Homo sapiens: one gene and its partners. The protein of the gene in region 1 purifies or fractionates together with the protein of each later gene. This does not show direct contact. Each region holds a gene or a part of one and is shown on either strand. Other genes may lie near its edges.

The links.
Region 2: the proteins of STX3 (region 1) and STXBP5 purify together in Homo sapiens (affinity purification with mass spectrometry; 4 studies listed by BioGRID and IntAct, with this or other methods). This does not show direct contact.
Region 3: the proteins of STX3 (region 1) and GOSR1 purify together in Homo sapiens (affinity purification with mass spectrometry; 4 studies listed by BioGRID and IntAct, with this or other methods). This does not show direct contact.
Region 4: the proteins of STX3 (region 1) and YKT6 purify together in Homo sapiens (affinity purification with mass spectrometry; 4 studies listed by BioGRID and IntAct, with this or other methods). This does not show direct contact.

What each region holds. Positions count from the first base shown.
Region 1 is NC_000011.10:59,793,375-59,800,410, forward strand, and holds part of STX3 (syntaxin-3), read left to right. Parts: intron 1-5; coding exon 6-140; intron 141-1,997; coding exon 1,998-2,108; intron 2,109-2,227; coding exon of another isoform or gene 2,228-2,338; intron 2,339-3,908; coding exon 3,909-3,992; 3' UTR 3,993-4,022; intron 4,023-6,300; exon of another isoform or gene 6,301-7,036. UniProt on the Homo sapiens protein: Potentially involved in docking of synaptic vesicles at presynaptic active zones. Apical receptor involved in membrane fusion of apical vesicles.
Region 2 is NC_000006.12:147,382,415-147,389,450, reverse strand, and holds part of STXBP5 (syntaxin-binding protein 5), read right to left. Parts: intron 6,674-7,036; coding exon 6,453-6,673; intron 4,738-6,452; coding exon 4,696-4,737; 3' UTR 1-4,695. UniProt on the Homo sapiens protein: Plays a regulatory role in calcium-dependent exocytosis and neurotransmitter release. Inhibits membrane fusion between transport vesicles and the plasma membrane.
Region 3 is NC_000017.11:30,487,394-30,494,429, reverse strand, and holds part of GOSR1 (Golgi SNAP receptor complex member 1), read right to left. Parts: intron 4,305-7,036; coding exon 4,213-4,304; intron 1,752-4,212; coding exon 1,677-1,751; intron 1-1,676. UniProt on the Homo sapiens protein: Involved in transport from the ER to the Golgi apparatus as well as in intra-Golgi transport. It belongs to a super-family of proteins called t-SNAREs or soluble NSF (N-ethylmaleimide-sensitive factor) attachment protein receptor.
Region 4 is NC_000007.14:44,210,959-44,214,811, reverse strand, and holds the end of YKT6 (synaptobrevin homolog YKT6), read right to left. Parts: intron 3,790-3,853; coding exon 3,688-3,789; intron 3,259-3,687; coding exon of another isoform or gene 3,244-3,258; exon of another isoform or gene 3,204-3,243; intron 2,566-3,203; coding exon 2,530-2,565; 3' UTR 518-2,529; downstream 1-517. UniProt on the Homo sapiens protein: Vesicular soluble NSF attachment protein receptor (v-SNARE) mediating vesicle docking and fusion to a specific acceptor cellular compartment. Functions in endoplasmic reticulum to Golgi transport; as part of a SNARE complex composed of GOSR1, GOSR2 and STX5.

The DNA of each region.
Region 1 (7,036 bases):
TGTAGATCATTGACTCACAGATTTCCAAGCAAGCCCTCAGTGAGATTGAGGGACGACACAAGGACATTGTGAGGCTGGAGAGCAGCATCAAGGAGCTTCACGACATGTTTATGGACATCGCCATGCTGGTGGAGAATCAGGTAAGTGGCAGTGAGTCCCAGCGTGGGGAGGGAGGAGAGGAAAGCTCAGGGTCTACTGAGAACAGGGAGAAAGGGAATACTGGAAGCCAGTGAGGTAGGGTGGGAGAACCATTGGGAATTTGCATAAAGGAGAAACAGAATCCCATGGGAAAGTGTGCATTCAAATTGAATGTTGACACTTTGGGTGATCTTAACCTTGTCATTCTTGCCTGTCCCTTTGGCCTTGCAGTCGTTGCTAGTTGATACAGGGTTTGATGTGTTCTGTCAAGTACCCAGTTTTCCTGGATTTTTGATTTTTTTTTTTTTTTTAAGATGGAGTATTGCTCTGTTGCACAGGCTGGAGTGCAGTGGCGTGATCACAGCTCACTGCAGCTTGACCTCCCAGGATCAAGCAATCCTCCCAGGATTTGTCTTTTTTTCTTTCTTAAAAATCAGAGATCCGGGCTCCTAATGGTGACGTTTTAAAACAGCCTCCTGATATGGACTAGTTCACTGATGACATTGAAAATGTGATCTTTTCTCTAGTTCACAGGGAAGACTCAGGTTTAACATAAATTTTTATTTTTTTCCATTTTTTTTCTGTTTGTATTTTTTTTTAATTTTGGCACCTTTTGCTAAGGCACAGAGCAGACAACAACATGAATGAAGGAGTAGCAAAATAGCATTGACAGAAAGACTCGAAACACTCGTGGTGCTAGTTTGACAGCTTACTTTGTCCCAGGCATGCTTGCTCGGGATAGAATTCTGGATTGCCTGCATAGGGCGCTAGTTTCGCATAGTTAGATGGTTCCTAGTTCTTATGGGACAGTTAAGTGTGCCACAGGGTCATGGTGCTGTGCACTGTTGCCATGAACTTCCAGCTGCTCTGACACTTGGGATAGGAGAGAAAATTGCTTCCATAGTAGGCAGACTGCACAACCTAGTTGAAGCTCGAGCACAGCTTGACTAGTTTTTGACATTGGTTCCCTGCCGAGGGCCTGGATGCTTTCCCCCCATTCCCTACTGGCCTCTGAGACCATTTCTCAAGTCCCTCCATCCCACCTCTTCTTTTCCCCCACACTGCCTTGCCGAGGAACTGGCTTGAGATTCAAGTGGTGGTAAGTGCCTTGTTCTGTTTACAGACTGCCATAAAGTGATAGAGTTGGGTTGGGTAGTTGAGGAGAATTCCTAAAATGCCTAAGATTAATTGGAATGATCAAACTTCCCTGTCAGGAAGTGATTGCTAGGAAATGGTTGGGAAGCTTATCAAGAGACCACTGTCTGGAAGGGAAAATATAACCAAATAGCTTGGGTAAACCCAATGTCTGTCAGTTAAAGGGCCTGGAAATAACTTAGAGAAAGCAAATGTTCCCCACCTCAGATAGTTATTGAGCACCTACTGTGTGCCAGGCACTCTTCTGCAGTTAGTGAATATACTCAATTCAGGCTGAATGATGTTGATTCAGGTCTGAATGACCAGGAAGAGGCCAGCATCCTAGTGATGTCCTAATAACAATGAGATATCCTTATTTTGGTTCCTCTCCATGTGCTTAAGTGTAAAAAAAATAACAAAGGTTGTCTGGGGATATCTCAGAGTATATTTATAGGTAGTTACTAGGTATCTAGATAGTATGTTCTGGATGCCTGGTGGAGTGCTGGTCACAGAGAAGTAGTAAAATTCACTGAATGTTTCTTGAACAAGTGACTGCCACCCCACCACCAAGGACTGTGAATGGGTGTCCTATGGAAGGCCATGCATCAAGGTTTGTGGATGCTCTTCTTGCCACTGAAGATTGTAAGAAAGAGAATCCCTTCCCCGCATTGGCTAGGACTGACCTGAGACGTTTACTTGGTGTGATCAGAGTCTGTTCTTTGCAGGGTGAGATGTTAGATAACATAGAGTTGAATGTCATGCACACAGTGGACCACGTGGAGAAGGCACGAGATGAAACGAAAAAAGCTGTGAAATACCAGAGTCAGGCCCGGAAGGTGAGACTCTCCTGTGGCCTTCAGAGAAGAGAGTCCATTTTGTTTGCTGTGTCTCGCTCTTTCTCTTCCCTCTCCCTGTCTCTGTTTCTGCTGCCACCACCTCTTGCATCTGGGGAAAGGGATCCATGATTGACCGTATTGAGAACAACATGGACCAGTCAGTGGGCTTTGTGGAGCGGGCCGTGGCAGATACCAAAAAGGCTGTCAAGTATCAGAGTGAAGCCCGGAGGGTGAGCACCTTCATCTCAACTGTCCTTCGTCTCAGCTGTCTTACTAGTATCTCTTCTCCCTGGCCACCCCTACCTGTGTTCTTGAGCCCATGCCTCCCTCCCTGTCGTAGCCTCATCAACCCCTCCCTCAGCTTTTCCTAGAGACAAGCTGCCTGCCCTTCCTTCCCAGGTGTGCCTTGCATGGATCTGGCTCACAAGCTATCTCCCCAAAAACCCACACTTGAAAGGCAGTTCTGTAGGATGGATGCATGGCCCAGGTGGTGCTGCTAATCTTCTCCTGGACTTAGCTCATGAGGCTTTCAGATGTTACACTTGACTCCTCTGTTCAGAAACCTTCTCTTCATTGTCTTCCACTCCAGGCGCCCAAGCTCCGCCTCCCTTCTCTTTTTCTCTACCTTGTACCTAGCTCATGCTAACTGCTATCTATACATTATGTCATATCTGATGGAGCACCTGTTATTTCTACTTTATAAATGAGACAGTTGAGGGTCAGGGGCTCAGTAACTGGCTTCAGGCCACCTAGTAAGTAGAGGCACTGGGATTCAAGTTCAGATCCCAATCATTCTGTTTCTACCACACCACTGTATTTGCCCACCCTCTGGTGCCCCTGCCGCTTAAGGACTTCTAGGCTTCTGTGCTCACGACTGTGGTTATCCAGCTCTGGTGGCGTCTGCTTTTTAGACTTCTCTCCTTTGACTGGTTCTCTTGGGCTCTGATATTGTTGTTGTTTAGTTCTTTGTTTTTCATCCAACTTTACCTATTGCTTATGCAGGGATTTAGGGGACTGGGAAGTTATTTTACATGGTGAATCCAGGCTGGGTGGCATTTTCTGATATCCAGGCAGTGTACTGGGTCTGACAGGTAGGAGTATGGGCAAAAGTAGGAAATTAGAACTCTATCAAAAATGCCTTTACATTCCCTCTTAAAATGGAAAAAATCAGTCAGTGACTTTTTATCTTGGCCAACTGCTCCTTAGAGACCCCACGATAGTGGCTCTGATTCTATCTGTCCACATATACAGAACTGCAGTGTGAGCTGAGAGCTGAGAGAGGCCCCATATTTCCCTCTGCTGGCATTCCTAGCCTAGAAGTAATTTAAGAAATTTAAACTGTCCTAGGCTGGGTGTGGTGGTTCACACCTATAATCCCAGAACTTTGGGAGGCCGAGGTGAGAGGATTGCTTGAGCCCAGGAATTTGAGACCAGACTGGGGAACATGGGAAGATCCTGTCTCTACAAAAATAAAGAAAATGAGCTGAGCATGGTGGTGCATGCCTGTAGTCCTATGTACTCAGGAGGCTGAGGCAGGAGGATCACTTGAGCCCAGGAGGTCGAGGCTGCAGTGAGCCATGATCATGCCACTGCACTCTAGCCTGAGTGATAGAGAAAAACCCTGTCTTAAAAATAAATGAAGTATCCTAGAAGGATGTCTGTATGTAGAGATGTAGGCCTCTTACTCAGACTGGTAAGATATTTTCTATGTAGAGGTGACAGGGGTTAGGTTTTGGATGAGTTGTTATTTTTTTGGTTGTTTGTAATAATGATTTGTTTTTGTCTTATTCCTCTCTCCAGAAATTGATAATTATCATTGTGCTAGTAGTTGTGTTGCTGGGCATTTTAGCATTGATTATTGGACTTTCCGTTGGGCTGAATTAAGAGTGGCCTAAGAGGCTGCTGCACTGAAATGTAAGTAAACGAGTGGTTCTTGGGGACTCTGGATTTGGCTCCTCAAGAGGAAATTAGCTTGGGATTTCAAATTCCTCTTCTTTCCCCCTATGATTGTCCTTGGACACACTGAGCTTTCTAAAACTTTCAGTAGCCTGTGGATTCTTTATCTCCTTATAGTTCTATTGGTTTCTGGCTGCAGTACGTGGATGAGCTCTCCGTTTGTTCTTATCCTGTAGATTCTGTCCCCAATCTCTGTCTTGTCGTATTACCACTTCTCCCAGCATACCTGAGCACCCCAGGTGACTCCCCTTACTCAGGAAGCATGCTTCTAAGTTGGGTACATCTCTGTCTTGGATCTGGAGTCTGTCTTCTGAATTCTTACTGATTTTCATGGATGTTGGGCTTTACTTTCTGTATCCTTTTCAATGTAAATGAAACTCTGAATTGGGATTTGGATCTGCAGAGTTTTCTCTGTTGCTGAGTGGTTGGGTCTTAAATGATGATAGTTAACACACTTTTGAGTGTTGTGTTGTACCAGACAATGTACTAAACACCTTATACACATATCATTGAATCCTTACAACATCCTTTGAGACAGATACAGTGTTATGCACATTTTACAGACAAAGAAACTCAGTCAAAGAGAATGTTGAATAACAGGGCCAAGTTCACACAGCTAATAGTGGACCTAGCTTCTCTTTGTAAAAGAAGGTAGCCACTTATCATTAACTATAAAGCCTGGAGAACCTTAGAGGATAGCGATGCTAAAATTTAGACTATTCATTTTCTTGAAAATTTGTTAAAAGTGATAGACTTACCACTGAATCACTGGTTTTTTTTTTTTTTTGAGACGGAGTCTTGCTCTATCTCCCAGCCTGGGGTGCAGTGGCATGATCTCGGCTCACTGCAACCTCCGCCTCCTGGATTCAAGCAATTCTCCTGCCTCAGCCTCCTGAGTAGCTGGGATTACAGGCACATGCCACAGCGCCTAGCTAATTTTTGTATTATTAGTAGAGATGGGGTTTTGCCATGTTGGCCAGAATGCCTTGAACTCCTGACCTCAGGTGATTTGCCCGCCTAAGCTGGGATTACAGGCGTGAGCCACTGCGCCCGGCCTGAATCAAAACAAACAAAAAACGTTTTTGTTGTTGTTGTTTTTTGTTTGTTTCTCATTCTTGTCCCCCAGGCTGGAGTGCAGTGGCGCGATCTCAGCTCACTGCAGCCTCCGCCTCCTGGGTTCAAGCGATTCTCCTGCCTCAGCCTCCCGAGTAGCTGGGATTATAGGTGCCTGCCACCACGCCCGGCTAATTTTTGTATTTTTAGTAGAGACGAGGTTTCACCATGTTGGCCATGCTGGTCTCCTGACCTCAGGTGATCCACCCGCCTCGGCCTCCCAAAGTGCTAGGATTACAGGCGTGAGCCACTGCACCCGGCCTGAATCACGTTTAATAGTAGTGAGCATATCAATCTGGTTATTGGGACTATTAAGACTTTTGTGACTTTAAAACAAACAATTTTTTTTTGTTGTTGAGATTGTGTGTTGCTCTGTCGCCCAGGCTGGAGCGCAGTGGTGCGATCTTAGCTCACTGCAACCTCTGCCTCCCAGGCTCAAGTGATCCTTCCGCCTCAGCCTTCTGAGTAGCTGGGACTATAGGTGTACACCAACACGCCAAGATAACTTTTATATTTTTTGTAGAGATGGAGTTTTGCCATGTCACCCAGGCTGGTCTTGAACTCCTGGACTCAAGCGATCCACTTGCCTTGGCCTCCCAAAGTGCTGGGATTACAGGCATGAGCCACTGCGCCCAGCCAGTGACTTTTAAAATATTTTTCTGAATAAAATATAGCATGCATTGTTAAAAAAAAACCTATAAAATACAGAAAACATAAAACTAATGAACTTTTAATATTATTGCTGATAACCTTGTGGCACGTTCACATACTCAGACATAGTTTTACATAGTTCAGACTATATTATCCAGTTTTGTACCCAGTTAGAAAATTATAAGCATCATTCCACAGCATTAAAATCTCTTTGTAAATCTAATTTTCAATATGAGATTGTGGCCATACTCTCAAATATTTAACATTTTCACAATGTTGGAGGTTTATGTTATTTTGCTGTAGCTAACAGTGTGACTAACCTTATTTAATATTTTTCTCATTTAAATTTTCTCTTTATTACCAACTCATATAAGTTGGAGTACTGAAATAACAGGTATAAACATTTTTAAGACTTGGCACATAATACCATGCCAGTACCCAGAGCTGTGCCTTCCTTTTATATTTGTTTCAGTGTGTCTCTTCTTATTCCTCCTCCTTCCATGTGACCAGGGGATCTAAAAGTCAGCTTATTACAGCATTGAGCATTCAACTTCATCTTGAAAGATAAGCAACAGTGAGATGAACAACCTCTCATAGACAGGTGGTTGGTTGATTTTTTTTTTCCCCTCTTTTTTCTGGCACTTGGAGTCTAGCCCTTGACTTTTTTGTATGTGAACTTTAAATTTTGGTTTGGCTCTGAACAATCTGATTGAAATAGATGTTGAAATTTTAAAAAGATATAAGAGTTGTTATTTTTCCATATCCTTGGATGAAAGATGATATGCAAATTTGTGGTGCCCCTTTCTATTCCTAATTCCAGGACTTCAGAAGGTATATGAATCATTTTTCAGGACGTAACTCCTCAAAGAGGAGCAGACTAATTAATATGTTGTTTTTGGTTGACTAACCCTATCTTTAACCTGCTAAATTGCTGAGCAGTTGTTAAGCTGCTTTTTTTGTAGTGTATTCCATGTTCCCTAACAAAGTCAAGACTGATTGTTGCCTAGGTCTGGACTCTCCTCTTCCTCCATGTCACCCAAGGGAGAGAGGTCTCTGAACAGGAGGGTAGACAGTGTGTTTATATTTCCTAGTAATGTGCCAGCTGCTTGCTCTAAGATCATAGTATCCTCATTTTACAGACGGGGAAAGAGCAATGAAGTTAAGGAACTTGCCCAAGACTACATAGCTCATAAGGTGGAGCAGCCATA
Region 2 (7,036 bases), on another chromosome or scaffold:
TTGTAAATGAATTGTGCCTATATTGTTAAAATTAATTTGACTGTATTAATAACTGAAGAAAGCAATGTTATAACCCTGGTAATTGGGAAGTTATTAAAATCATTTAATTCATCTGAGAAAGGTAAGCCAGTTTTCCCTTTTTTTCTTTTTTTGGTTGTTTTTGGTTGCAACAACTGTTTTCTGTCTACAGAACCTTTTTTAAAACTTCGGAGGCAGTAGTAAAATCATTAATATTCACAGGAAAAATAATTCCCATAGCACTTTACAAGAAATTGATCAGAGTGATGAAAAGTGCAATTAACAAAAGCTGTAAACAGTATCTTCACATTCATTTTCAAATGAAAAGAAAAATCTGTGGGCATAAATTTCAATCCAAGAGAACAAATACCCTAAAAGGGAAAAGAAAAAAGAAGGACATTTAAGATATAGGAGTGCTTTTTTCCCCCCAAAGTAAATACAGATTAAAAAGTCTAAGAATGTTGATCAAGTATCAAACTGATAAGGAACAAATTCTATAAACTACAAAATAAAAACCTTCATTGACAAAAATACATAAACTCTGTTTTCATTTTTGGAAATTTATTTTTAAAAAAGGTAGAAGAAAATACCTGGAAAACTATTTTAAATATATATATATATATCTATATTTTAAAACAATAGTTAAGGTAGGCATCCAACAGCAAACTGAAGCTATTGAGAAAGATCTTGCAATTATTGTTGTGGGCATTTTCCCCCAAAATAAAATTAATATTTGAAAATGCTCAATAGAGGGTTTTTTAAAGCATAGAAATGATATCTTTCCTGTTCATGTGTGAAGATTTTTAAATGATGTATGATTTTTTAAAATTAATTGTATCTCGATATGAGATACCAGTATTTCTTATTATAAGCGTAAAACATAACTTTTTGTATGGATAATATACATACTTTTTAAGTACTTTGACTTAAACTTAACAAGTTCACCATTTTAAAATTAAAGTACATTTATAAAAATTCCATTTTAAAACTAAAAGTATATTTTCTAGCAGTATGTATAAATATAACATGTTACTGTATGATCTTAAAACAAATCTGAAAGTGTTGCAATAATTTAAGACCAAGAACACTGAAACATACAGCAGATTATTTTACTATTTTTTAAATCTATATAAAACCCTATTAAAGGTTTTAAAACTGATCAGTTTATTTAAGGTACAGCTAGCAGCATATTCATGATTTTGGTATGTTTTATACACATGTATCACTTGGTTTAAACTGAGCAATGTGGATTAAATGATAATAAAAAGTTTTCATTACCTAAAAAAGTGCAGAAAAAATTCAAGTTTAAAGTTCAGTGCTCTTTATTTTGCTGAAACAAATAAAATCCCAAAAGTTAAAGTGTAAAATAAATCTTTGCCACAAAAAATTTACCTTTGGATATAGCTTTTCTAATGTCACATGAGAAATGCCTTAAGCAAAACATACATGGAAGATAGAACTCAGGGTAAAACTTTGAACTCCGTGGTGTCTTCCACATATTCTTCCTTTCCTCAGCTGTCTCCCCAGCACCCCTGTAACCTAAAAGTATGTAACACTTTCAGACTTGTTTAAAACACTCACATATCTACATGAAATCGCTTCAGAGGAACCTACAATTAAGAAGTTCTAAGCCAAAAAAAAAAAAATTGCTTCGTTCTTTAAACTATTGTACTTAATTAAATTGTAATATACTTACACATAATAACATAGACAAGTAGCAGCATTTTTCACATCCATAAAAAATCAAATGGAGAAGTTAGTAATAGCTCAGTCGAATCTATAACCATTTTTTTGGAAACACTTTGTACAATTGAAATGCAAAGCAAAAGTGTTAAGATGATGCAAAACTTCAAATGGATGTAATGTACAGAATTTGTCAGAATATAAGATTTCAAATAACTTTCTCAGCAAATACATATGGATTTTAGTTTGAAAACTGAAATGAACTGGATATATGGTACATACAGAAAAACCACTTCCTACTTACAAACTACTAATCATGAATACTTCAGTGATTTTAGAGTCAAGGACAAATGCAACAAAAACAATGAGGATATGGAGAGGGCACACAAAAATCTTTCATTTTTCTGATATTTTCTATTTTGACTTTTTTTTTTAGTCAGTTTTCCTGAAATCGTGGCTTGCTGGTGACTATTACTTTCTGTATTTAAAAAGAAAAAAATAGAGATGTTACCTCTCAAATTACAGTAAATTCCCTGGGTTAGTTATTACTGTAGACTGTCTCTTATCTACAGACAGAATCAAGTATAACTCTGAGAAGCTTATTTCCTACACTCAAACATACTTTAAGCTTTCTAATCCTAACTGAGTCTCTAGTTTGTTGTGCATAATTTGTAGATTAATTTAAAAATTAAATAACTCAAAACACTGATTTAAGATTTTCTTACAAAATCTTGGAAATCCATCTAATGTATATACTTCTATATTTGAAAATAATTACAAGATTAGTTCATTTTGTATACAACAGGAAAAATGACAGTAAAAATGAAGTTAATATACAAATATATTTGTGTTATATAACACAAAATAACACAGCAAATTAAATAATTGCAGCTAATATGACCTTCCACATAGATAGGGAACCAACCAGTATATTAATCTACATAATGCTTTCCCAACTTCTTCAAATCCATAACTGTTGATTTTATTGATGACATTCACAAAACTGTACCTTTAAAATAGGACCTAACAATTCCTGTGACATATCATGGAACTATGGGTTTACTGGATAATAGATAACACAAATTAAGCAATTTATAAACTGCTGAATGTTCAGGCAGCTGACATTAACGAAACAGAAATATGTTATTCATTGGTGCTTTCTATAAATTCAAAAACTTTTGAAAAGGGCTTATTTAAAAAATATTTCTTTTGGCTTGATCAATTATCTCTATCACACACATTTAGTCCCTACCAAATGATATTTAAAGTAAACTTTGATGTAAACTTTTGCATCTAGTAGTGCATGTTATAAAATGTAAACATAAAAGCTTTATTAATGAAAAGTAGAGGAAAATATGCATAACAGACTGTATGAAAAAGTTAAGATGTCCTACATATTCCTTTAATGATCATATAGAATAGAAAAACAACCATCCTGTTTACTATCAATTTGTGCTCTGATTATCTCTTAATGAAAAAACAAAATCATTTAAAGGAATTTTTTATAGAAGACAATATTTAAATTTCATTAACATTAATTTTAATGCTTCCATTTTGCTTTTGCTGGGTTGCTTTAACAACAATCAATAATAATCTCAGATTAGTCTGTATTCTGAGATTGCTTACTTCTAGATCTACTAGGTGGTTTCTTTCCTGCCCGTAATGCTATTCTATGAAACAATCATTCATTGTCCATTGCTGGTCTCAAATTGTATTATATTCCAATACAGAAATAATTTAGTTATCACAGTGTACATATTTTCCTTTCTTTTTGGTTTTTTAAAACCTTGAAAGGATATGTACAGATTTATAGTATATTTCTACACAAAATATTTTGTAGGTCATCAGACTAAACTCTTATATAATTATTGACAACAGATGCTTGTAATTTTCCATGCGATAGCATGTGCACTAACATTTAATTGGCTCATCACCTGAGTGTATTGGAACAGTTAGCAAATAAAGGGCATTTTGAAAAGGGAGCTGAGCATTTTACTGAAATAATGAAAGTTTTTTTTTAAGCAATTTTAATTAAAGAATGCAAAGGTACATTTGGTTAAACATTTTATAAAAATTCAAGCAAAATTTAAAACACAGCCAATTTCAACATTTCTACAAATTTAACCAGCATTATTTTGGTCAAATCCACCTTTAGCTGAATTAATGAGAACAAGGACAAGGGACATTGAAGTATTCTCCTCACCACAATGGAGGTTTTTCTCACTTTCCACACTGCATAGCCACTACATGGAAACTCCCAGAATGATGAGCAATTCAGTCATGCTCTACACTTTTCTTTTCAATGAAAAGTGATGTATCTTCTTGTTTTGCTTTTGACAAAATATGAACTAAATACAAGTCTATAATAACAAGAATCCAAGAGTAGCTCATACACAAGTCAACTATGTGTATGTTTTTATTATTTAAAGCCCACCATTCAGCTTATCTGTCTAAAGAGATGATAACAAACAATTTGTTTCTTTTTCACTAATGATACTGATGACCAGTCAGTGTTAAGAGAGGGAAAGTCCAAGACAGCTGTTTATAATCCAGTCCAATGACACACATATAACTATTTCAACTTCAAGACTTCTGACTTATTGCCTCTGCCCTAAACAGGTCAAACACTGATGGCAGATAAAACGGCACAAACCCTTTTGGCATATGAAAGTTTAATACAGGAATGATCCAGGATTAGTCCCTGCACCAGGTCTCCTCAGCAGCCCCCTTGGTTTCTTCATCTGTCACGTGTGACCTGTTTAATTCCCAAATGGTCAACTCATAACTGGCACACACCATATACTCCATTTCGAGTGCGTGTGAACACTCCTCAGTTAAAGCCACATGACTGAGGTAAAACAGTGCATGACTGTGCTAGGAAAGAACAGTATTCAGTGACGAACATCCCTTTAACGTTAACTTTCCTAAAGAATGTAATAAAAATGGAAAACTTTTTTCCTTCTGGCTGAAGTTGGACTTATTGGATTCTGGTTGTCAGAACTGGTACCACTTCTTATCTTTGTATTTCAACATAATCTAAAGGGGGAAAAAAAAGAAAAACATGCTTTTAAAATGCCGGAACAATAACATTTATAAGTGATTTCTATATTTTTCCAAAACATTATGTCATTCTGCAATATTCTGTAGTGCTACTATATGCTTACTTCAACTTATTAAAAGCAGTAAGAACTATTCTATTTGGAGGAAAAAATACGATATCCATTAAGAACTAGCCTAGAAGTTCCACAGATTTCTTAGAAATGTGACATAATTTGGTGACCTAAGCTAGTAATATAAAAGTAAGATAATTTTTATTTTGTACTATGAATTAAAAATAATGCTTGAAGAACTGGCGAATTAAAGGTTGAAAATGCTACTCCTCCTGCCATCTCAAATTTACTGAGCATCTATTCTGAGCCAGACACTGCATGACACACTTTTCCTACTTGATTTCAGTCATAACCATTCTTGGGCTAGGCACTGTTTTTCTCCCCATTTAATAAATGAAACTGAAGCTTCTAGGGGTTGCCCAAGGTAATGCAGTAGTGAAACTGGAATTTGTGCCCATGCAGTCTAATTCAAGAACCTGTGATTGTAACTACCTCAATGTACTGTCTTCCTTAGACTCTGAAATATGGCTCAAGAACAACTGGTAGAAGGGAAAGTTAACAGTGTGAGATTAAATATTTCCTAAATATTCAGAGTGTGAATATATTCCGAAATTGACTGAAATGCTACATGCTGTAGAGATCATACAATCGGGTGTAGGGTTATGACAACAAAAATCCTGACCTAGATTGACCACCACAAGCCTGTATCTGAGGTGCCTGGGTATAGTACAAGTAATCATAAAGGATCTCTGAACCTCTCTGAAGCCCTAGACAAGTATCTTCCAGGTCAAGTTACCTCTTCATGCATTCTAGATTTCCGCATTTTTGAGCAAGGAGGAAATGACTTTTGGTTGAAAAATTTAAAAAAGAGCTACCACTACAGATTGGGTGCTCAAATATAAAAACAACCTTAAAATTGTTTCTTCAGACAAATTCAAAATGTCCTCCAGGGCCAGCCTAGGAACTAGATGTGTGAAGTAACCTAGTGTAAAGCACCAAGGAAAGGCAGGCCTGTGTGTCAAAATGAAAAATGTGTTATTTCCCGTAAAGGCTTTTAAATTCAGCTTTTTAAGAGCACGATGTGGTGTAAGGGGGCCAGTCAGGGATCCCTACTTTACAGCGTGTGTTTCTGAGCTCTATCATGACTTCCTAGGTCCACCATTGCAAAATGCATCTCTCTACTCCTCCATATGAATTGGTCCACAACGCGGACTTAGTATTGTTTATTTAAATAAAAAGGTTTGTCAATTTTAGTTATTTATATCTATCTGGAAGACTCAAGGAGGCAAATTATTTCTTTTTCTAGGACAAAGTGGTAGTAGACTCTGAGGCATTAAGAAAAATTAACATTGGTATCGCATTCCTTAAGAAACAGTTGCAAAGCTGGTAGCTTTGCTTACCAAAAGCCTGAAGGTGGGCAGATTCCTTCAAAATTTATAATCTTATAGTAAGAAACCAAAGGCTATTAGAGATACATTCCTGTAATGGTTCCCTCTGGTGGCAAAAATCAGGAACTTGCAATTGTACAATGAATATATGCAAATTCATGGGTGTAGAAATACAATAGCTATAAAAATAAAGTAACATTCACACTTGCTTTACCTAGAGCTTTTTGTTCAAATATCTGTTTGAGAGTCGTACCTCATGAGCATGTTTAGAAAATGACTCTGCACTTGATAACATGGCCGCAGTTCTTTCTTCCAGATCGCCAAGTTTCTGCCCTCTTTCATCTAGTGCCAGCCTGGCTCGTGCTAATTCACCAACAACTCCAGATGCTGCCCCTTTTACGCCTTCAATGCCACCAGGGCCAGGAATATGCTGTGCAAGGCTCCTTGAAGCCTTTCCTGAGGACGATTCTCCAACTGAACACATTTGATAAATCAAAGAGTAACTCAAAACATGAACATTTTACTAATATAAAATCCTACTACATTAAAATACAATTTTTGGATTGAGTGGTAATACAACTGAAATAAAATTATAAAGTGAAATATGCTTAATACATGCTTTCTTTTGTTATGATTGGTTTAATAATTTTTAGATACTTTTTCAAACATGCAAAAACACAATGTACATTAAATATTCTATACTAGTTCATACAACAAGACATACTAAAAAGGAGCTGGTAAATATTTAATGAAACAAATAAAGGTATATTGTTACCAATTACATAATGGCAAAAACTGCTCTTTTGTGCAAAAAACGAAAGATATTTAGCTTCGAAT
Region 3 (7,036 bases), on another chromosome or scaffold:
ACAAGTAGTTACAAGCTTGACACTAATTCAAAGTCAGTATTTTCTTCTGACTGACAGACTCAGGGAAAGAGAAGCCAAAAACGAAAGTTACTTTATCCACCATATAGCAAAAGAAATTTGTCATCCATAACATAAATTGCTAAAACCTAACAGCATTTATTTTTATATAAAAAGAGTATTAAGGAGAGCTGGTAAAAACAATTCATTACAAAGTTGTGTGTGTGTGTGTGTGTGTGTTTAAGTATGGCATTCATTTACAAAAACTGATTTACTCTTTTTCCAGGCAAAAATATGTGCTTTTGGAGCAAGTAAAAAATTACATTAACATTAAAAAACAATATTTATGAAGAAGCAAAAGCTTAAACATAGTTCTAGCCATAAAAGGTCCGACCCTACTGCAAAATATCAAACTTGGAAATTTGCCAATATTATAGAAAAACTTTGCAAATGAGTGTGTTCTTTAATCCTGCAATTCTGATTTAGGAATTTAGAATGAGGAAATCATGACGGATACACACAAAGGCTTTACTGTGTATAATAGTAAAAACAGAACATAACCCAAAAGGCCAACATTAGGGAAATGGTTACATAATTTATGGTTTATCTTTATTATGGAATATATGCACCATTTATTTTAAAAAAACAAAAAATCAAATTATATGGGAAAAAGCTTGCAATCTACTGAAGAGTAAAAAATATTACAGAATTTGTAGTAATGTGTCATTTCAATTTTCTTTTTGTGTTGTTGAACTATCCATACTTTCTAAAATGAGCACTATGAAAGGCATTTAGCTTTTGTTATTTAAAGTTATTTCAAAAAAATCTTGCCACTTCTTCCTCAAAGCACTTGGCAAATGAAATACAAAAACACTGAAAAACTAAAGTTTTTCACATTATTTTGTAAACATATTTTACTGATAATTTTAATGTTATTTTATTACCTAGCAAGTATTTGTAATTACAAAAAAAAATTGATTTAAGAGAAGTATTTAGAAGCTTGTGTTATCATACTGAGGGCAATGACGAAGCCCATCTTTTCAGTCTCTACGACTCATCTAATTCATCAGGAGCTCTTATTCCATTCAGTTTCATCCTGTCTCAGTCTCTCTCTGTAGAGAATTAGCACATGCACTGGCCGGGTGCGGTGGTGGCTCACGCCTGTAATCCCAGCAATTTGGGAGGCCAAGGTGGGTGGATCACGAGGTCAGGAGATGGAGACCATCCTGGCTACATGGCGAAACTCCATCTTTACCAAAAATACAAAAAAATTAGCCAGGCATGGTGGCACACGCCTGTAGTCCCAGCTACTTGGGAGGCTGAGGCAGGAGAATCGCTTGAACCCGGGAGGCAAGCGGCTGCAGTGAGCTGAGATTGAGTCACTGCACTCCAGCCTGGGTGACGGAGCGAGACTCCATCTCAGAGAAAAAAAAAAAAAAATAACAACCATATTAAGGTAACAATTAAGTGATGTGAAATATTCAACAGCATAGGATCTTTCCTAATTATGGTTGGAACAGTTGCAATTCCTTTTCTATTGAAAAGAGTCATTAGGAGAATAAAATGAATTAGCATGGACAAGGCACTCAGTATAATAAACATCATAAAATGTTGGTTACATAAGTAAATGAATTAATAAACGTGGAAAACCACATAATGCACATACATTCAATACCTACTTTCGAAGGTGGTCATGTTCTTTCAAAAATAGCTCAGTTCTTCTGTTGTTTACTCCAGACCCACTTTTATATGACCTGGGACAAAAGAGAAAATTTAAAAACATTTTTGGCAGAGAATACAAAATCAGATTGACTGACCCTAGTGATCTTGAAAGTAGAAAAATTGAGCCTCTCCAGAGTTTTGAATGAACAATGAAAGTACATAATCCTTTGCATTTCCCTCTGAAAAATGTTATCTATTTTAGGTAGATAAATATTAATGCCTCTGCATCTCTAATTTAGGCCCAACAGTTTACTGTTTTTCACCAAAATAACTCAACATTCTGAAACAAACAACCAAAACAATCTTACTTTTCCTTTACCTCCTATCTCTGATATCTTCATTTTTCTCCAAGTAGAAGTAAAACTTAGGACTGATTTAGTACACAGCACACAGGGTGGGAAAGCTGTTGAAATGAAATGTTTTCTTTCACAATAATATATGTGGTCCACCAACTGAAGCCTAAGGAACACTGAAATCAAGCTAAAGATTTGCTCATTTTGGCACACTTAAGGATAACCATTTTGGTCTTCAGTGTATTGAAGTTGACAAAAAAATTACTCTTATCACTACTATCAAAAATTTAATTTTTCTGTTTTCCACTAATAATAAAGTATCAGGAACAATTTTTTTTTTTTGGAGACAGAGTCTTACTTTGTTACCCAGACTGGCATGCAGTGGCACAATGTTGGCTCACTGCAGCCAACATGCTGTTAAAACTGAAATACTGGCTGAAAGGCAGTGCTACAGGAGAAACCACCACCAAGGAAAGCAGAATAATATAACCAAGAACACATTGGACTCAGGAGACTGATGACTTGGATTTAAATCTATACTGAATCATTTCATAGCCACTTCACCTCAGACAAGTGTCTCAATACCTAGTTTTGTAAAATGAGACTGATCATTTCTATCTTAACCAAAAGATTGCTATGAGGCCAAAAAAATATAATACATTAAAAAATACTGTGTAAACTACTACATATACTTTCCTCTAGCACCTAGATTCTAAACTCCTACAGGACCACATTGGTCTTTTCCTTTCTTTTTTTTTTTAGACAGAGTCTTGCTCTGTCACCCAGGCTAGAGTGCAGTGGCACGATCACAGCTCACTGCAACCTCCACATCCCAGGTTAAACCAATTCTCCTGCCTCAGCCTCCCGAGTGGCTGGGATTACAGATGCCTACAACTACGCCCAGCTAATTTTTTTATTTTTAGTAGAGACGGGGTTTCACCATGTTGGCCAGGCTGGTCTTGAACTCCTGGCCCCAAGTGATCCACCTGCCTCAGCCTCCCAAAGTGCTGGGATTACAGGCGGGAGCCACCACGCCTGGCCGGTCTTTTCATTTCTACCTTCTGCTGTGACTAACTCAGAGTTGATACTCAGGAGACAGTTTAATGAATAGATGAACATATCTTTTATGGCCATTTTTCAAAAAGCAAGTTATTACAATGGGTTGCATTCTAGTGATTCCCACAAATTATGGGGGGGCTCAGTGTCTATACATTAAAGACCATCCCCTATATGGGTTCCCAATGCATTCCTCAAAACATATATATAAATGGACTACATGGAAATTAAACAAAAGACTTAAATGTCCTGAAGGACTAAAAATATTACAACAATCTTACTGTTGAAACTGTTACTGTTACAATAAAATAAAGGATCTCTAGGAAAGTGTTTTCGAGAGTACACATAATATACAGTTTACCATAAATGTGTATCATAGTTTATAAAATGTATCACATAATTTATCACAAATGAGATGATGACAGGTATCATTAGATGGCTCCAAATTGGAACATCTTCAGCTTCAATGAGACGCCCATGGGACTTAACTTTGTCAGTAGTGTTCAGTTGTAAAAAAATTTCCAAAAATGCTATGAAATGCTAGAATAGATCATTAAAGGTGAGGTGAAGGGACAGAAGAAAAAAACAAATATTTAAAATTATAGATTGAGATCAGTATGAGAATGTTGGGAGTCCTTAAATAATTTAACATAAGGCTATGAGTGAGTTTGTACATATTACTGTTTGTAATATGTAACTGTTGGGACAAGGGAGAGGGCCAGGGGATAGGTGATAATCAGGAAGAGAAACATAGGGAGCTTCAGTTACTGATAATGTTACAATTAAAGAATTTTTTTTTCTTTGACACATCTGCAGAGGATCATAAAAGTAACATTATAATTCTTAGGGTGGGAGGTAAGAGATCAGAGAACCATGAAGAACCACCTAAGCTGGACTTTGAATTAAGACAGGAAAGTCAAGGTTGGCAGGAGCCAATGATAAAGTAAGAGGAAGCATGAGATAAAAATGGAAAAGTAGATTAGGATGACATTGTAGCAGCAATGTTAAAAAGACAGTGAAATGGGAATTGGAAACCCTAAAATCTCAACCACGGTTCTGCCACTCAATTTGCAATTAACCGTGAACATATCCTAAAGCCAAATCTGAATAAATATTCTACAAAATAATATAAAAAGTAACTTACTCAATATCTTTTCGTACTGATCCCATAAGATTCTCCCTTTCCCGTATTGCCATAAAGTTTGCTTTGGTTTTATGGAATTCATGTGTATAATCCTGTAATAAATCAACATCCAGTCTCAACAGAAGCTAATTATGGATTTTCATCTCACTGAACCAGTTATGTATCGTCATCACACTGTAAATTTGTCAAGAAAACTGCTATTTAAGAAATCAAATTAACCAAAGGTAAAAATAACTTTAAAATTACTTTCCTGAAGAGTGACCAACTTCTTTCAAGTGAAAATAATTCAGTGCTAGGGAAACAGTGCCATTAAATCACTATCCTTTGTACCTCCTAGTACTCTGTCTTACGAGGCAGAATTAAGAAGAAAAAAATTCTGAGATAAAATAACTTCAAATAGTCTAGGAGAAAACTTGAGAGGCTCTTTTTACTTAGTAGTATACTTAATAGAGCTTATTTTCAAATTTCATCATTTTGGAGCTCTCACAAAAAATTTAATTCCTAAACAAAAAAGAACAGAATCAAGAGAATTATAAGGAACAAAATAATCTTTAAACATTTTCTACTATTTTTGTACCACTGTTAAAAGTACTTCATTACTTTTCATAAATTCAGAGATGTAGATAAAGAAGAAAATCAAAATCTTGTCTCCCAGAGTCCCTGTTGACCTTTTAAAAAACAAAAGTAACACATAAACATGGAGGAGAATATTAAAAGAGCACCAAAAGAAATAAAGGTGAAACAAAGGAAAACAAAACATTCTGCTCCATACCTCATAACTGTTACCATCATTTTGTATTTTCTTCCAGGAAATTATTATTTTCTTTTTTTTTGGAGACAAGAGTCTTGCTCTGTCGCTCAGGCTGGAGTATAGTGGTGCCATCTCAGCTCACTGCAAACACCACTTCCTGGGTTCAAGCGATTCTAGTGCCTTGGCCTCCCTAGTACTGGGACTATAGGAGCGTGCCACTACATCCAGCTAATTTTTGTATTTTTAATAGAGATGGAGTTTCACCATGTTGGCCAGGCTGGTCTTGAACTCCTGACCTCAACAGTTCCACCCACACTGGCCTCCCAAAATGCTGGGATTACAGGCGTGAGCCACTGCACCTGGCCAGGAAATATGTTTTTACATATACAAGCTTATCTATTATTTCTTTCACTTTGCCAAGTAAGTCATAATATACATTCTGATGTACACCTTGCTTTTTGTACTTCATAAAGTATCAAGCAATCTTTCCATATTAGGAAAAAGAAATCTACATCATTCTTTTTAATAGCTGCATAGAATATTATCTTATGACTATCACAATTTAATAAATTCCCTACTGATAAACACATTAGTTGTTTTCATTTTGTTTGCTATTAAAAATACTGCAAGACTAGGCAGGGTGGCTCATGCCTGTAATCCCAGCACTTTGGGAGGCTGAGGTGGGCGGATCACTAGAGGTCAGGAGTTCGAGACCAGCTTGGCCAACATGGCGAAACCCCGTCTCTACTAAAAACACAAAACTTAGCCGGTGTGGTGGAACGCACCTGTAGTCCCAGCTACTTTGCTCAGGAGTTTGAGGCAGGAGAATCACTTGAACTTGGGAGGCAGAGGTTACAGTGAGTTGAGATCATACCACAGCACTCCAGCCTAGGCAACAGAGCGAGACTCTGTTTCAAAAAAAAAAAAAAAAAATACTGCCAATAAACATTCTTACATATATTTTTTAAACTGAACTCTTTTATTTTAAAAAAAACTATATTTAGGCTGGGCGCAGTGGCTCACGCCTGTAATCCCAACACTTTGGGAGGCCAAGGCAGGCGGATCATGAGGTCAGGAGATGGAGACCATCCTGGCTAACACGGTGAAACCCCATCTCTACTAAAAATACAAAAAAATAGCCGGGCATGGTGGCGAGCGCCTGGAGTCCCAGCTACTCGGGAGGCTGAGGCAGGAGAATGGTGTGAACCCGGGAGGCAGAGGTTGCAGTGAGCCAAGACCGCGCCACTGCACTCCAGCCTGGGTGACAGAGTGAGACTCTGTCTCAAAAAAAAAAAAAAAAAAGTATATTTAAAGAGTAAATGTCTATTAAGTTCAACAGAGCTTAAAAAAAAAAAAAAGGAGTAAATGACTAGCAATAGAATAATTGGATCAGGGCTGGGTACGGTGGCTCATGCCTGTAATCCCAGCACTTTGGGAGGCCGAGGTGGGTGGATCATGACATCAGGAGTTCAAGACCAGCTTGATCAATATGATGAAACCCCATCTCTACTAAAAATACAAAAATTAGCTGGGCGTGGTGGCGCACACCTGTAGTTCCTGCTACTCGGGAGGCCGAGGCAGAAGAATCGCTTGAACCCAGGACGTGGAGGCTGCAGTGAGCCGAGATCGCACCATTGCACTCCAATACTCCAGCCTGGACAACAGAGCGAGACTCCGTCTCAAGAAAAAAAAAAAAGAATAACTGGATCAAAGAATCTCACATTCATTTAAATTCTGGTAGTGCTAAACTGCCTTCTATAAACATTACATCAATTTATGTTCCCACCAGCAATATATGAGTACCCTTTTTAAATTTTTACTCTTGCCAATAATGGGTTATAAATGTTTCAACATTTGCTAATCTGACATGTGAAAAATCACCTCTTTTAGATTTCTGTATTTTTATTTGGAAATACTGCTGAAAATGTTTTTATAGTTTTGGCCATTCATTTTTTTGTAAGCAATTTTATATCCTTTGTCCATTTTCCTACTGTCTTTTTCTTATTTCTATTATATCTCTGTGTAGTAAGCAAATTAGCCATTCGTTATGGTTTCCAGTATCAAGTCTTATTT
Region 4 (3,853 bases), on another chromosome or scaffold:
GCTCCTCCAGGAACCAGGAAGCTTCCAGGTACCCTGTGGAGCCCCCTCTGCTCCTGAAAAGTTGCCACCTGTGCTTGGTGGGATGCCAGGTGGTCTCAGATTGACCCTGGGGTCAGCGGTGAGGGACAGGAAGCCTACAGCGGGATCAGGATGGGGATGGGGCCTCCTGTCCCATGGCTCTGCAGCTATGAGGCAGCTTTCCTAGGGTGGGTCTCCTGGCTGCAGCTAAGACCAGGCAACAGGATTCAGCAATGACAGGGCTTCTTCTACTCCAGGGCTCCCTCACCTGGTTAACAGCAAAAAAGAAAATACAGTTCCTGCTAGCAAGGTCTATAGAAAGGAGGTGAAGGAGTCAGGCCTGCAGCTACCTCTCCTGGACAGGAGCTGGTCAGGATAACTTGGACCCTTGCATGCGGCAGGCCCACAGGCACACAGCATGAGGCCACTCTCTCCCCCGGGGGAAGGGCTTGGTGAAGAAAGGATTCCCCTGAAGCACAAAGAAAGCACAGGACCACTGTGAAATTTCAAGACAACTTTATCCAGACAGGCGCCTCTCAAATAGAACACAGGGAAGTTAGGCAGCAGTTACTAAAATACAGTCTCGCCAAATGATTTACAACAGAACACAACAGGAGCAGGGGATCTGTGGGTGGGGCTGGGCTGGGCCCTCTATCTCACAGGGCCTGAGTCAAGCCAGCCCGCCCTGCAAGGCAGGGGCTGACCTGCAAGCGGAGATCTCACTTCCTCTTACCCCAAATTCATACCTCCATTTTCCCCGCCCCCATCTCTCCCCAGGGTCCTCAAGTGGGAAAGGGAGAGGTAGCATCCCTCGGATCCAGGCCCACTCCACTCCGTCTCCGGCACCAGTGGGCAGGCTGAGTCTGGGCCTCAAGGGGCCCTGGGCTTAGGGTATCTATGGCAGTAGGAAAATGACATGGACAGGCTCTTCAGGGGTAGGCTAAAGTCCTCTGGCCAGCAGTACCCAGAGAAAATGGGCAGCAGCAGGTAAACCAGCCAGGAGGTGGAGTCCTCTGAACCCACAGCAGACCCCACCCTCCTGCCCAGCCCCTGCCCACATTGGGGGTCAGGACCACTGAGACTCTGGTCAGGACAGTGGGTGCTCTCAGCAGTGTGGCAAGCTCAGAGCAGAGCTCCCAAGGACCATACCACACTGGTTCAAAACCCATAGGTGACACCATCCCAGCAGAAGCTTCCATGGGTGCTGGATCCCAGGGCTGCATCCTGAGCACAGGTGGGCAGACTGGAACATAACACTAGGACCCAAGGGATCCAGAACATTTTAGGCCCATCTCCTGGGCTGCTCCAGCCTGTTGCCATGACTTGGGCAGTGAGTGGGCCTCCTGCCAGGTGGCAGGGCACAGCTTAGACCAAACCCTTGGCCTCCCCCCTCTGCAGCTACCTCTGACCAAGAAGGAACTAGCAAGCCTATGCTGGCAAGACCATAGGTGGGGTGCTGGGAATCCTCGGGGCCGGCTGGCACCCACTCCTGGTGCTCAAGGGAGAGACCCACTTGTTCAGATGCATAGGCCTCAGGCGGTTCAAGGCAGTCTTAGAGCCACAGAGTCAAATAAAAATCAATTTTGAGAGACCACAGCACCTGCTGCTTTGATCGTGATGTTCAAGGCAAGTTGCAAGTCAAGGCAAGTGTCCCAGAGGCCCTGGGCAGCTGAGTGCACCTGTGTTTGATCTTCCCCTGATGATGGACACTCCCAGCTGACCATCCAAACACCAGGAAAACATCCCCCTTTCCTGGGCTCAGTTCCTAGTCTACTTGCTGGTACGAACCCAACCCACACACTCCCCGCCCACAATGCAGCTCCTTCCAAATCCTCCCACAAGCCACCTTTGTGGGACTTGGAAGCTGCTTAGGATGGGCCCTGCCCTCTGCGGGAAGCCAATCCTAGCAGAAAGGTAAGCTAAACAACAGTCTCAGAATCTGAGACCCAGTGACTGTTCCCCCCGCCCCAGGCCTTGGGCCTGAAGTGGGGGCCTGCCTGTGGCCTCTGTGGTGGGCTCACTCCCACCCCCAACAGTGGCCCCAGGAGAGGCTTTCCCAAGAGTCTTCAAACTCCACCCACCCCAGCCCTAGCATCAGGGACTCCCCACCCCCCACTGGAGTGTTAATATCATTAATGTACAAATAAGATCCAAAGATATACCAAAGATCGAGAAACAGCTGGCTCCGACCTCCCTCCCACAGAGCCTTCCCAGGGTTAGCTGAAAAAGAGCCCTTTGGCATCTACAGAAGCCAGTCGGAGTTTATGGTTTCATTTGCCCAAAAATACACCTTTGGGGACCTCAAATTCTTTCCAAGAATCACTACCACACATATGAATTTGAACATTCGCCACCCTTCCACCATCCATTTCTCGCAGGAACTTCAAAATAAAAATGGCCAGTCTGCCCCCACTCTGGCTCCTCGTCTATGGCTGTCTCTTCTTTTCCAGGGGCTGCAGTTCTGATGTGAATGATGGTGCCATTCCAGCATTGGGCCTCTGGCAGGCTGCATCACATGATGGCACAGCATGAGTTTTGTTTCCGGGCCTTGGAAAAAAACAAAGAGGAGCTGAGAAGGAGGACTGACGAAGTAAGGGAAGCCCCAATCCTGGCAGGCGTGGCAGAGGGAGCTCCACAGGACACAGCCAGGCAGAGAAACTAGCACTAGAACAGGGTGGGGGTGGAGGCCTTGAGGGAAGCTGTCCACAAGCAATTCCCATCACCAAGCACAAGGCGGGCCCCGGCTTCCAAAACTAGTCTGGGATCCTTTTTCCTTTCTTTTCTCACACCCCATTAATGCTATCAAAAAGTGAGTAAAATTCCTACAGTTAGGCCAGGTACAAACAAAGGACCAATAATACAAATGGGATTGGCAGAATATCTTAACTTTGCCCCACTCCTGTCTTCACACAATGCTATCTGACCACCACGGTGGTGTTTCTTCCTAGAAGATGGTCCTGAGGACAACAGATGTGGTTCCCACTTGGGATGTGGTTTGTGGGGACCACTGTTGCCACCTTCTCTCTTGCTTTCTGGTCACAGACTATCTTCCTAATCCCACCTAGCCATCTCCCTCCAATGTGCACATGAAAGCAAATGTGTGTGGACAGACCAAGTAAATTTGTCCCTATGACTATCCAACCATGGGCCAACAGTGCCATCTCCACATAGGAAGACATGAGCACTGACCTGAGAGAAAGCGGCAGTCAGCAGCACCCATCCTTGTCAATTAAATATTTTCTGTCAAAGGGAAATTAAAAGCTTAAGAACCTCTTCAGGAAGGCTGAATTGCTTGCATCTTAAAGACTTATGTCTACTCAGCAGAAAGAGGAATAAGATTCAACAGTAAATCTCTGGTGATCAGAACTTGAACCAGCCTTCCTGGACTGGGAGTAGGAGTTCAGAAATCAGCCAGAGCAGCAGAGGGCAGAGCAGAGGCAGGAGTGGAACAAGGCCTCGGCCCGCATCGACTCCAACGGCGCCCAAGTGAACTGCCTCCAACCACCTGGGCCTGAGGCGCTCACCTTAGGCTCTTGCCGCACAAGGAATCATCCACCATGATTCAACAGTCTAAGAAAGACCCGTTCATAGTGGAGAGTGCCAGAAGCAGCAAGCTGCGACTGCTCTCTAGAGAGAACACCCAGGAGGCAGCAGGTGCTGGGTACTCACAGTTTTATAGAAGGCTTTAGACTGTGTTCCCAGCACCTCGGATTTGGACACCAAGTCATCTAGCTTCTCACCTCGCTCTAACAGAGACTCCATGGTGTTGTGCTGGACAAAAAAGAAAAGAGAATCCAGCTCTGTTCAGTACGTGCCCTGACATGAGCCCCTCATA